2 linked regions of the Homo sapiens genome follow. The protein of the gene in region 2 purifies or fractionates together with the protein of the main gene of each other region. This does not show direct contact. Each region holds a gene or a part of one and is shown on either strand. Other genes may lie near its edges. The genes, in order: ALDH18A1 and CBLL1.

Region 1 (3,823 bases), on a different chromosome or scaffold from region 2:
AGAATTGTAAACTTCAAATAAGTGAATTGTATGGTATGTGAATTACATCTCCATAAAGCTGTTATTTAAGGAAAACAACTGAAAGCACCTGGAAGTAACATTTCAGGATTCAAATGACATCTCTTAGACTCACCCACCCTGTTTTGAGTCATAAAAGCCCTTTGTCAGAACATATGGCTAATGATCTATAGCAAAAAAACATCAGAGGGACTCAAAGAAAGAGGGAAACTCATGTGCTCACATATGTAGCATTTAAAACAAAGGGCAGATAAAGGAAAAAAGCATTACTTTGTACCTTCTACATCTGAAAGAACAATCAAGAGATCAGTTTTCATTTCCACAGCCAGTCGGGCAGCCAGGCTATCATTATCTTTAACACTAATAACCTAGAATGCAGATTAAAAAGTCATAAGTGAGTGAGCTAAGCAGTCCAAAAAGAAATTCATGGAAGAACACAGCCAAGCTCAGGCAAAACCAAGCTAGGATCAGGCAAAACCAATGAACCCAAATATGTAGATGACGGCTCTTGCAGGCCCCTTCTGTCTGCAGAACACACTGTCTACTGGCAATCCTTTTTCCAAACATGCAGTCTTCTAGCCACTGAAATATACAAGCCATGCTCATCGCACCATCTTCAGTGACTATAGCACCTCACCCTGTTGAATGCAACCACGAGTTCAGAAGAGCTTATGCAGTCACTGCTCCATGACAAGTTTCTCTCACAACTTTTCCATCTTGTTTATGCCAAACTTCTGGTGTTAGTGCATGCAGCATAGCATGGTGTTAGTGTCTCCAGCATGCTAAACCCTTAGAAATACTTTACCCACATTTACCCCCTGCAGGTCACTGTTGGGCTCAGCTGGGGGGACAACAGCATCATTTGTGTTGACAATGGGGACAATGTTCATTCTAAGGAGTTCATGAAGTGTTCCATTGAGGTTCCGGCGCTTCTGCTCATCATGGAAATCCAAATTGGTCACCAAAATCTAAAAGGATTAAATAGATGGAAAATGCATGAGGGAGAAAAACGCTAAACTTCCCAGTATACAAAAGACGCTAAGAGCAGGGGAGTTAAACTTTAGGTTTCTGGGGCCCCACACAGATTAGAAGATTAGAATGAAATACACATATCTGGGTGCTATCCAATTCTTTTTTTTTTTTTTTTTTTTTTGAGACAGGGTCTCATTCTGTCGCTCAGGCCGTAATGCAGTGGCATAATGTCTGCTCACTGCAACCTCCACCTCCTGGGTTCAAGCAGTTCTCATGCCTCAGCTTTCCAAGTAGCTAGGATTACAGGCACACGCAGCTAATTTTTGTATTTTTAGTAGAGACAGGGTTTCGCCATGTTGGCCAGGCTGGTCTCAAACTCCTGGCCTCAAGTGATGGGATTACAGGTGTGATCCACTGCACCTGGCCCCAATTTTTGTAGAGATAAAAAAAATTACAATAATCTGAAAGATTTATTTAAGAATGTTCAAGACTTCTTGCAAAAGTACTTTAATCCTCAAAGAGCTACCAAATTCCAAAATCTCATCCATTTACAAAATTAAGAAAATTAATGTATCTATTTTAGAGGGATACTGGGGGAATCAGTGATTATCCATTAATTTCTTTTCTTTTTTTATAGAGAGGGTCTTACTCTGTTGTCCACGCTGGACTTGAACTCCTACTCTCAAGTGATCCTCCCACCTCAGCCTCCTGAGTAACTGGGACTAAAGATGCACACCGCTGTGCCCCAGCAATTTCTAAAATATCTCTGTATTCTAGGATCTGATTCAGGGCCTGGCCATAGTAGGCCCTTAAATATTTGGTGAGTGAGTGAAAGTGTATTAGACAAAATGGAATAGGGCTGTGTTGTCACTGCTCTTGCTCTAAAGCAGACTATTACTGGAGTTAACTAAGATTGTGTGTGAGCATGTGGGGTTAGTCTGAGAAATTTATGGAAGTTAGTCTTTGGTCACAAGCTGAAAGGGGGGCAGAACACAACTTGGTTCAAGGGAGGAGATGAGCATAAGGTGCTCAAAGGTAGAATGGAGAGCTGGTGTGTGGGCTGGTAAACAGCTCTGCTTTCTAGCTTAAATCAGAATTTTATGCAATGTTTAGGAGAAAAAGATAAATGGGTGAATGGAGATAGCAAGAAACTAAATGGCAACAAACCTTGAGGCTCAACAATAAATAATGCAATCTCTCTAATGTTTACGGAAGAGCGTTCTTGCTGTGTAGGGCAGGATGAGGTAGGGAAAGCTGGAAGCAAATAGTAAAGAAAGCAGGCACTGAAACAGTCAAAGTGAGGATGGTTAAGGGTCTGGCTATGGTAACTGAGAAGAATATAGCAATAAAACAGTAGCCTTAATGGTATATAAAACACAGGAAACATACATATAGAAAAATAATTCACTCACTCGATAAAAAATTTGTTGAGTACCTCTGAAATGCCAGAGTCTAGCTGCTGGAATGGAGAATAAGAATGTTGATGTCTTGGGGAAAAATAAAATGGAGCATATTTTTGAAAGGGAAGATCATGAACTCCTTTTCAGAAAAGCTTAGTGCTGTTGGACACAGGACTAGGTCCAAACTGAACATATAGATTCTAGTCACGATGGTGAAAGATCAAACAATTAATATAAACCCGTGTGTAGGAGAGACAAGCAGGAGATCTAAAGGTCCAGGAAAAATACCTGTCACCAAAATAGCTTCACAAACATGGCCTGGGGATCTCAGCATGAAGGTAGGAGATAAAGAGTCCCAAGAGGGAAAAGTACGTGTTTAGACAAGCGCAATCTGTTGAGGGAAAATCAGTTTCCCTTCTATGAAGAAAAAACAAGCTGTTTTAAGTGTTTAAGTCTTTAACCTGGCAAACCACCTACTGGAAATTTTCAAAAGCCACTGACAATGGTCTTCTATATAGGATTACTGAAGAAAATAAGGAACCACAGGAAAAGGTACAAAGGGCAAATATTTTCTGTAGATATGATGGCCTTGGGGGAAGACACAGGTGTGAGAGGAAAGAGCCCAGGGGTTGAAGCTTGTTGGGAACTGGAGGGGGCAGGGCTCTTCTTTCACTCAATGTAAATGGAAACAATGGCTGATGCTGCATGGACTCTTAATGCTACCATCATTCAAAACAAAATAAAACAAAAACAAACTCTCAAAAGGTTTCATCCCTGGGAAAAACCAAACCAAAGCAAAACCATAGCTCCCTGACTTGAGCTTCCTCACCTGGCTCCAGGCACTTTAAAAAAATTAAAGACCAAAGTTGTCATTGGACTGTGAAGAGAAACCAAATAATAAAGAAGAGTGATATAAATAGAGATTTATACTGTATTTATACTAACAGAAAAAAAGCTAAGACTACAGAAAGTGGGGTCCCCAGCCATAGGCAATGGGACAAGTCCGTGCCTTTCTGTTTTACCTCACTGACTTGAGGACACTCTGGTGTAATACCAGAACATCACTGTGGGTACAAACAGGCAAATGATGGAGAAACAAAAAAAAGTAACAGGAAATGAAGAAGCAAAACCTGAAACAATATATGTATATATAACAATATCACCTGTGTAAAATAACATCTGTGCATGTAGTGTACATGTAAAATAATATCCATAATATAAAATAACAGCTATTTTACATCTTTACAGGTAAAGGAATTTCAAAATAAAATAATTTGGGAGTTAGATTTTTTTTTCAGTTGTTTCCTGAAGTGACTGTTATTGAGATGTCTCTAGTGTGTAGTTGTACAGTTGATTAAGAATATAATTCAAAAAAATTCAGGAGATTTAGGTAAAAATGAAACAATGTAGAAAGAAGGTTCTAGAACATTTAG
Region 2 (3,823 bases):
CACTGGTATCAAACACTCCAAAGGAATTAGTTTTCAGAAATTATTCTAATTTTCAGTTTTATTTAATATTTTATAAGAATTCAACAATTTGTCAAGATAATCATATTAAATTCATAGTATTCCAATACTTCCCTTAGTTATTTCATACTTATTTAAAATTTTGCAAACTTAGTCATTAAACAATGATAAACCTATCTAAATTTCAGAACCCCACCTCTATGCAAATGCTTACTTACAAAAACAATATTTAATTATACTTACCATTCTCCCATAGATTTTAATAGGCAATCCACACTTGTCACAGAAATGAACTGGTGTATCATCCTTTTCACCTAAGATGTTTATCTGTTGAAATGATATAATTAAAATTACCTTCTTACACAATTCTAAAGATTGTATCTACACAATGAATTGGTCAATATTTTATAAAAGTTGTTAAAACAATTAGAAATAGAAGCCTCTTGGTATAATCTCCATTTATTCCCCACCATTAGTTGTGATACCATTAGTTTTTCTTCTTAGTGTTAACAGTTATTGATTTTACTGAAAATTACTTCAAATTATTCTTGAAAATAGAGTATTAACAAATGATTTGTATGTGCTGAAAATCATAGTTATAAGTTCATAATATTCTTAATGTACTGTGCATTACTCCAATAAAACATTTTAAGTATTTAATACTTAAAATATTTTATTGTTATAATACAATTTTTCATTTTTAATTATACCTGAAAGTCCCAAAAAAGGTGTCCAGGAAATCTTCGCTGATTTGCAAACAGCTCACCCCCTTTACAGTCATACCGTTCTTCTTCATTATAATCAAATCCTTCTGAGAAAAAAAAAGTATTGCCCATTAACTTTCCAAATCTCAAATTTCATTTTGGAAGCACATATACATGGCAAAATAGACCTTTTCACTAAAAAGCTCATCTGATGCCTTTCAAAGCTTTTCTAAGAATAAGACAATCAAGATTACTTTAAAACATCAGTTAGAAGTGATCTTGGTGATCTAGTCCAACTCTTTTACTTCATTATTGAGAATATTACTGTATGGAGACTCATAACTCAACATATAGAAGATAAGTGGCAAAGCCAGGAACAGACCTCAGATCTCTTGACTCCCATTCAAATGCTCTTATCAATTCATGAAACTATTTCTAATGTAAAACTTTACTGATGATCATGCTTGTTGCACAAATTTTTAAGATATTGATCACCATTTATTCTAGTCTAGCTACAAAAATGGTATGCTAAGAGACTGATTGTATTGCCAATAGCATAATGAAAACATAAAGCATTCTATCGATTTTATTAGCAAACAAGTTATCCTCTTCTTTAGCCCTAAAATGAGTGATTTAGACACTTTAACATATTCATATTTCATCCTGTCAATTAAAACCACTCCCTGATTAATTACCCAAACAACAGGAGCCATATCGTATTCTCATGTATCCTTTCCTACAATGCATTTATCAATATCAATAAACTTAAGATATATGAAGATGAAAGGGGCTCAATTTCTCTGGCCTAATTAAAAAGTTGATGGCAATCTTCTCAACTCCTACAAAAGAACAGAAAACCAATCAACAGTCTGATGGGAATTCTAGGTAGAATCCAATTACCTAAAGTAAAGCTGAGCAGACAAATATATCCCTCCAAGGAGCCAGGCTTCTCACGACTCTTTTGGCCCTAGAACTGGTAAACAGAGTAGCCAAGCACACAAGTTTTAACTTTACCCACATGACTAAATTACAGCACCTATACACAGACACAGACACACACACACACACACAGAGAGACACATTCACATTAACACACAAACAATGATGCAAGAAGTTTTTGAAGCTGATAGACACTTCAGTGTACTGCTATTTAATTACTGCCAATACGAATGTATAATCCAAAGTCAGGATGCTCTTATAAGTTACACCTGAGTGTTCCTAGGCTCCTATATCACCCATTTACACCTTAGAAAAGCTGGTGTGATCTAAAATTCAAAATAAGGAAACTCAATTAATTTTTCTTTTTTTTTTTTTTTTTTGAGACAGAGTCTCACTCTGTCGCCCAGGTTGGAGTGCAGTGGCGCAATCTCCGCTCACTGCAAGCTCCACCTCCCAGGTTCATGCCATTCTCCTGCCTCGGCCTCCCGAGTAGCTGGGACTACAGGCACCCGCCACCACACCCAGCTAATTTTTTGTATTTTTAGTAGAGACGAGGTTTCACTGTGTTAGCCAGGATGGTCTCAATCTCCTGACCTCATGACCCGCCCGTCTCAGCCTCCCAAAGTGCTGGGAAAACAGGCGTGAGCCACCACACCTGGCAGAAACTCAATTTTTCAAACCAGAAAATTATTGAGATAACAGCCAAGGAAATTAGGAGCACATTATCATTTTTCAGAGTAGTTCCACCTGTACTCCCATCATTAAACTATATATATTTTGATTGATGCCTAGGAAAACAACAATCAAAAACAAACTTATTTTACTCCAAAATCCGAGAGGGAAAGGAGAGAAAAGGATTTTGGCTTTTCTGCATTGTTTGAACTATTAAAGAATTATTTGTACACTAACGTGTTGTTTTAAAAAACTATTTTTTTAAACAAAGCCAAAGCAGGAGTGACCCTAAATTAGAGGTAGTGCAACAGCAGCCCTAGGTTATTACTAACACGATTTCTAACATTTTGACTTGAAATATACTTGTTTAGATGGCAGAGGAACCCTACGATAAAAGAAACCATAACATATGTTGTAACTAAAGCAGTTTGATTCTACAAAATAAATACAGACAAATTGCTGGAATAGAACAGAAAGTCCAGAAATACAAAAAAATACTTTTAATACAGGGGTCCCCAACTCCCAGGCCTTGGACCAGTACCCTTGGCCTGTTAGGAATGCGGCCACACAGCAGGAGGTGAGGGAAGGGCTAGGGAGCATTACCACTTGACCTCTGCCTCCGCCTCCCGTCAGATCAGCAGCCTCATTAGATTCTCATAGGAACGCAAACCCTATTGTGAACCGTGCAAGAGAGGGATCTAGGTTGGTGCTCCTTACAAGAATCTAACTAATGCAACAGTTGCATCCCGAAACCACTCCCCGCACCCTGCCATCACTCTCCACCTGTGGAAAAACTGTCTTCCACGAAACCAGTCCTGGTGCCAAAAAGATTAGGGACTGCTGCTTTAACATATATATGATAACAGTAAAATCCCTATTCAGCAAGGAAAAGAGTTGGGACAATGTTTCGAGGGAAAAAAAAAAAAGCCAGACCCCACCTTTTTTCCCCTTAATAACCATAAATGTTCTAAAGCAGTATCAGTGAACTTTTTCTGTGAAATGCTAAATAGTAAATATTTACGCTTTGTGGACCATATGGTCTCAATCACAATTACTCAACTCTACCATTATAGTGTGAAAGCCCCCATAGATAATACTTAAATGAATGAGCATAGCTGTGTTCCAATAAAATTGTTTATAAAAACAGGGCTACATTTGGCCCACAGACATAGTTTGCTAACCTGTAATCAAGGGTAAGATGGAAAAACTCTTTTATACTGGTGAAATAGGGGAAGGCCTTTCAAATAATGTCACAAAACCCAGAAGTCATAAAAGCAAAGACCGGATATCTGACTATATAGAATCTTCAAGATTCTCTGCAATAACTATAATCCCAGCACTTTGGGAGGCCGATGCGGGCGGATCATGAGGTCAGGAGATCGAGACCATCCTGGCTAACACAGTGAAACCCCGTCTCCACTAAAAATACAAAAATTAGCTGGGCGTGGTGGCGGGCACCTGTAGTCCCAGCTACTCGGGAGGCTGAGGCA

The links.
Region 1: the proteins of CBLL1 (region 2) and ALDH18A1 purify together in Homo sapiens (affinity purification with mass spectrometry; one study listed by BioGRID and IntAct). This does not show direct contact.

The regions. Positions count from the first base shown.
Region 1 is NC_000010.11:95,632,664-95,636,486, forward strand, and holds part of ALDH18A1 (delta-1-pyrroline-5-carboxylate synthase), read right to left. Parts: intron 987-3,823; coding exon 828-986; intron 387-827; coding exon 296-386; intron 1-295. UniProt on the Homo sapiens protein: Bifunctional enzyme that converts glutamate to glutamate 5-semialdehyde, an intermediate in the biosynthesis of proline, ornithine and arginine.
Region 2 is NC_000007.14:107,750,417-107,754,239, reverse strand, and holds part of CBLL1 (E3 ubiquitin-protein ligase Hakai), read right to left. Parts: intron 1,696-3,823; exon of another isoform or gene 1,623-1,695; intron 830-1,622; coding exon 729-829; intron 346-728; coding exon 262-345; intron 1-261. UniProt on the Homo sapiens protein: E3 ubiquitin-protein ligase that mediates ubiquitination of several tyrosine-phosphorylated Src substrates, including CDH1, CTTN and DOK1. Targets CDH1 for endocytosis and degradation.